Regions from separate parts of the Homo sapiens genome. Here region 1 is linked to region 2. The links come from fine-mapping of genetic effects on gene expression. Tissue or cell type: cerebellum. Region 2 holds a variant in brackets; the other region holds the start of a gene. All regions are shown on one strand. Distances are from middle to middle.

Region 1 (2,914 bases), 27 kb after region 2:
CCAACCCAGAAGCCCAGCCGGGCTTCACCTCTCAGTAGGAGCGGGGTGCAGGTAGGATCAGGGTGCTGGAGGGGCATGGGAGGGTAGGACAGAGTGCGGTAGTGAGAGGTGACAGAGTGCTGGCAGCCCTCACTCGCTCTCGGTGCCTCCTCGGCCTCGGCGCCCATTCTGGCTGTGCTTGAGCAGCCCGTCAGCCCAGCGCTGCACCGTGGGAGCCCTTCTCTGGGCTGGCCGAGGCAGGAGCCGGCTCCCTCAGCTTGCGGGGAGGTGTGGAGGGAGAGGCAGGGGCAGGAACTGGGGCTGCGCATGGCACTTGTGATCTAGCTAGAGTTCCGGGTGGGCGTGGGCTTGGCGGGTGGGCGTGGGCTTGGTGGGCCCCACACTCAGAGCTGGCTGGCCGGCCCCACCAGCCCCAGACAGTGAGGGGCTTAGCACCCGGGCCAGCAGCTGTGGAGGGTGCTCTGGCTCCCCGAGCAGTGCCGGCCCACCGGTGCTGCGCTCAATTTCTCACTGGGCCTTAGCTGCCTCCCCACGGGGCAGGGCTCGGGACCTGCAGCCCACCATGCCTGAGCCTCCCCCCAGCCGCCGTGGGTTTCTGAGCAGCCTGAGCCTGCCCAAGGGGTGCCGCCCCCTGCTCCACAGCACACAGTCCTATCGATGCTTAAGGGCTGAGGAGTGCTGGTGCGTGGTGTGGGTGTGCAGTGTGGGACTGGCGGGCAACTCTGCCCACGGCCCCAGCGCAGGATCCACTAGGCAAAGCCAGCTGGGCTCCTGAGTCTGGTGGGGACTTGGAGAACTTTTATGTCTAGCTACAGGATTATAACACCAATCAGCACTCTGTGTCTAGCTAAAGGTTTGTAAACGCACCAATCAGTGCTCTGTGTCTAATCTAGTGGGGACTTGGAGAACTTTTGTGTCTAGCTAAAGGATTGTAAATGCACCAATCAGCACTCTGTGTCTAGCTCAAGATTCCTAAATGCACCAATCAGCACCCTGTCAAAACGGACCAATCAGCTCTCTGTAAAATGGGCCAATCAGCAGGATGTGGGTGGGGTCAGATAAGGGAATAAAAGCGGGCTGCGGAGGCAACCGTGGTAAGCTGTGCTTGCATCATGTTTGGAAACTGTCGTACTGCGCGAAGCTTTGCAGCTTCCCTCCTTAAAGGCAGTGAGATGGCAAACCCACTGGGAGGAATGAGAAACTCCAGGCGCACCACCTTAAGAGCTCGTGACACTCACTACAAAGGTCTGCAGCCACTCCTGAAGCAAGCGAGACCACAAACCCACCAGCAGAAAGAAACTGAACACGTCCAAACATCTGAAGGAACTAGCTCCAGACACACCATCTTTAAAAACTGTCACACTCACTGTGAAGGTCTGCGGCTTTATTCTTTTAGTCAGTGAGACCAATTCCAGACACAAGACCATCTCATCTCAAGAGACCAGGACGTCCGGGCACCCCTAGAATGTAGCTGCTGGCAGAGCCTGAAGTCTATCCAGCTCATGCTCTTCCCTGATATCCTTGACAGATTGTGGGATGGTTCAGCCTCTGCAAGGACATGGCCAATGATGGGGGGCTGGTTTTGGGGGCAGCACTCTAGGCAAGGGAAGAAATAAAGTGTCTGGGAACTGGCGTGGTGAAGGGGCACTTTGTGGAGAAGATGTGTTCACATTTGGATGTGTCGAGGGTGGAATGATATGAGGAAAGTCAAAGGGTGCCCACCCCCAGAGCCTAGGTGTGGGCACAGCACTGCACCACGCCTTAGGGGAGATTGGACTCTGGGCAGAGATCCCAAGAGAAGCAGGAGTTGGAGTCTTGGGGGCCAGTGTGATAGGGAACTAACTTTACTTTAAAGCCAATTTGTCAGTAAGAAAAAACGAGGTGCACCTTGTAGGAGAAAAAGTCACAAGCTTGGTGTGCTTGAAGTCACAAGCCTTGCTGTGCTTGGTGAGAGGGATCCCGAGTGTACTTGAGGCACTCTCCTGTTTAAAAGGGGAACGGTGGTTTTCTTTTCTCAGTGTAGGTTAGTGTAAAAAATCTGCTTTGTAATTGCATAAGGTCTCAGCACAAACAAAATCACAGAAAATGTGAAATGTATTATAACAGTCAACTTGCTTAGAATGTAGTTGAACCTGCATGCAGTATTGAGACACCAGACAACTGTTTTCAGTCTCCACATTTCTTTCATTTCCTTTATGAAAGTTACATTAAGAAAAAAAATAACTCCCTTGAGTATTCTGATATTTTCGGTGAGTGAAACAGTAATCTCAGCAAAGTTCAATCTTGGTATCAGACAGAATTTCAGGTTGTTTCATCTAATTGCCACTTAATACCAAAGACATGATGTTTATTAGCATGTATTTCTAATGAGAAACTATTATAGTCGTCCTCAATTGTCTGAAATATGAAGCGGAAAAAGAAAATTATGAGCCCCAGATACCAGACCAGTTGCTGATCAGATAGAATATCGTGGTTCCAGCATATTATGAAATAAAAATTCAAAGACTGAATACCATGCAAAAGGTCAATATTCGGCAGCATCTGAGAAGTCATACATCTAGATAGACCTAAACTATAAGTGCAGAAGTGCTACAGTAAACTATATGGGCTTTCTACTAAGTACTGGCTAATTTTAAAACATACTGAAATTTATGTACATTAGTCTTTGTTATAAGAATTGAGAATCCGCATTGTATTATAAAGTTGATCTACAACAGTCACTTTATTATAAAATATTTTCGGCCTGGCGCGTTGGCTCACACCTGTAATCCCAGCACTTTGTGAGGCCGAGGCAGGCAGATCACCTGAGGTTGGGAGTTCAAGACCAGCCTGACCAACATGGAGAAAACCCCATCTCTACTAAAAATACAAAATTAGCCGGGCGTGGAGGCAGGTGCCTGTAATCCCAGCTACT
Region 2 (2,914 bases):
CTGCTAGGAGCTTACTAAATACGATGTTCTACAACATTGTTTAACGCAAGGGGAGACGCTCCTACTCAGAGGGTTTAATTGCTCACCTACTTCTTTTTCTGCCTTCTTGGGCTCCTAAAATGAAAAAAAACCCTGGAGTGATAAAGTGAATCAAAGGGGTACCAGCTGCATCACAGCAAAATAGATTCCTAAAAAATCCCTGGCCTAAGATGACAGCCTTGGCTGGATAAGCTTGAATGTGCTGATAGTGGACATGGTAGAATGAAGGTGGTTGAAATGTTCATATTAAAGAACTTCCACCCAGATTGCAAGAAAAGAGAGAGGAATGGAGATGGCAGCACAAGCCCCTACAATAAAAGCAGATGTTTTGAGATCAGTTATATTTGTCCTGAAAAAAATAAAAACAGAAACCAAAGTTTAGCCTGAGGCTACAATTAATTGGGCAATAAGCCAGAGGCATATATGGCATAGACAGACTTAAACATTTCTCCCTTGTATTAATACAAATACTAAAATTACAAATAAACTGATTCCAAATAAAACAAATACTTTAAAAATTTAATGAATAAACACTGGAGTCTACAGTAGCATTTGAAGGAGATCTCACAAACAGGTTTGGTTTCTGAAGGTTAGAACTGATGGTCTAGAGAATTCATTTCATTCCAGAGACAGAAAGAGAGGAATTTCTTAGGCTCCTTCAGGAATGCGTCTGGCTTTGCATCATCTTTGTATGTTTGAACTATGCATATGGCGTAAGAAAACAGGATTTCACAGATTTAAGGTGCGAAAAGTCACTGGGTTCTCTTAAGAAGTCTGGGATTATTCTGCTGGAAAAATAAGTTTGTTGAGAAAAAATGAGTTGGAGGAGGCTGTTATTGAAGTGAAGCAGAATTGTTTTTACTAATCTGCTTATTACCCACTCTGTAGTGTGGAAACAAATTATTCATGCACAAGGTCCTCTCACTGTTCCTGGAATGCAGTGGAAAGAGAACAGATTAGTTTTTCCTCCTTCAGAACACAACCACTAGAAACATCCTACCTCAGATGAGATATTCCCTAATTATTTTCAAAAGACAGTGAAAAACGATGGATGTAAATGTTTGCTACAAAATAAATACATGGTAGAAACAGAAGCATCTGGGTCACAGCTATATTAGAGCTACCTGTGTTCCCCTGTCACTGAGATTAAAACAAAAATGTCCAATACAATCATTCACAGCATGGGAGAGGGGAAGTTGAAGGGTTAGGAAACGCCAGTCATAAAAGGATTTCAGAATTTCAGTCCATAAGGAAGTGGTTTTGTGCATTGTCTGTTCTTGTGTGCAAGGTGAAGTCTGGAGAACAGAAACGTGCAGTAACAAGGGCTCCTTTGTCCATATCACCTCTCTAGATATCAAGTTTCAGACATGTTGCATTTTAATTGAAAGGTTGATATAATTTTTTGAAAAAGAAAACTTGTGGTGTTTGAAGTGACAAAGACTGCTGTGACAAAAAAGCAGGGAAAGGGAATTTTTTTTAAAAAAGCAAACAACAACAACAAAAACCCACAAAAAAGCAAACAGCAAACAAACAAAAAACAGGGGAAGAAGTCGAAACACCCTGGGTTGTGACTACTTCCAGGAAGGGGCTACAAGAGGCAGTTGGAAATTCTATTTGCTTTGCAACTGTGAGTTTTCCAGCCTGCTCCCTTTCTAAAGTATATTACTCTGCTTTTGGTTCATGAAGTTATCCATTTCTGTTTTCTGGAACAGCTATGTATTTTCTTTATCTATCATCTATCTATCTATTTACCATCTATCTTTTCTACCTTTC[G/A]CTATCAAGAGCTTGGGTCAAGCAGGATAGAATTCCAGTGTATGTTCACTCTACCATTTAAAACAAGAGCTCTTGTAGGCATTCTCCATCACATCATAAACCTGAGCTTTCTAAAACAGGGTGTGGCAAACTACCATGCATGGGCCAGGTCTGACACAGTCTGCGTTTGTAAGTAAAGTTGTAATGGGACACAGCCACATACATGTGTTATACAATGTCTCTGGCTACTTTCATGGTATAATGGAAGAGCTGAGTCATTGAGAGAGGGACAACATGGCTTGGAAAACTTGAAATATTTAACATTTAGCCCTTTGCAGAAAATATTTGCTGACTCTTGTTTTAGAAGATCTCTCTTTAGAATGCTACCTATTGCCTTCTGGATAGAATCACAACTCTTTACCACAATCAACACACAGCCCTGCTTTTATTATTTCCACTCCTCCTCCTTATTTTCCTTCTGACAATGCCGATGGATTGTCAGCTTCCCAGATGTGCAAGAATCTCTCCTCCCTTCCCGACATTCTCATGCTCTCCCTCTGCCTCTCAAGAACTTCCTGTCCCATCTCTCATGACAAATCTCTTCTTCATTCTTTAAGATGCAGCCCCTTTGCTCCTTCCTTAAGGATGTCTGTCTGGCTTTATTTTGGGTGACATGCTCCTTCTGCATCTCCCAGAGCCAGCCTCTGTGTGTCAGCTACAGCATTTCTTTGCATCTCTGTGTCATATATCATCAAATCTGCCTAAGCTTGAGTGAGTCACTGCATGACAACTTCAGACTCCACCAGCATTGTCTGCACTAACAACGAGGCTTAGAGATTTGTCCAGTATGCTCGGGGTTGTGGGGTGGTAGCAGTAACCAGCTGGTGAGCATCATCTCTTACATCAGAATGAAATCTGTAGATCTCTGCCATTCATAAGTATTTGGAGCTTAAAATTAGCATAAAGATTTTCCTTAAGAACAAATGGCTTGAGTAGGCTTTTGGAACGTAGGATATTTCTGCTCGTTCATTTCAGCGTTCAGTATTCCCACATGAATCTAAACACGGCTCTGCTCTTAGTAACTGTGCGACCCTGGGAAAGTCACTCAATCTCCCTCAGCTAA

What was found.
Region 1: LIRIL2R starts here. The variant in region 2 is fine-mapped to the expression of LIRIL2R in cerebellum (GTEx, PIP above 0.99). The same link has a PIP of 0.9 or more in caudate, cerebellar hemisphere, cerebral cortex, hypothalamus, nucleus accumbens and putamen.

Annotation. Positions count from the first base shown.
Region 1 is chr6:179,299-182,212 of GRCh38, forward strand. LIRIL2R (lincRNA regulator of IL2RA) reads left to right here and starts at 1,097. Exons shown (of 2, transcript XR_926349.3): 1 at 1,097-2,914. LINC03066 (long intergenic non-protein coding RNA 3066) reads right to left here. Exons shown (of 8, transcript NR_126020.1): 8 at 2,168-2,397.
Region 2 is chr6:151,923-154,836 of GRCh38, forward strand. No RefSeq gene overlaps it. Among named protein-coding and RNA genes, the nearest start is that of LIRIL2R, 27 kb to the right of the region's middle. The variant G/A (reference allele first, on the strand shown) is at 1,813.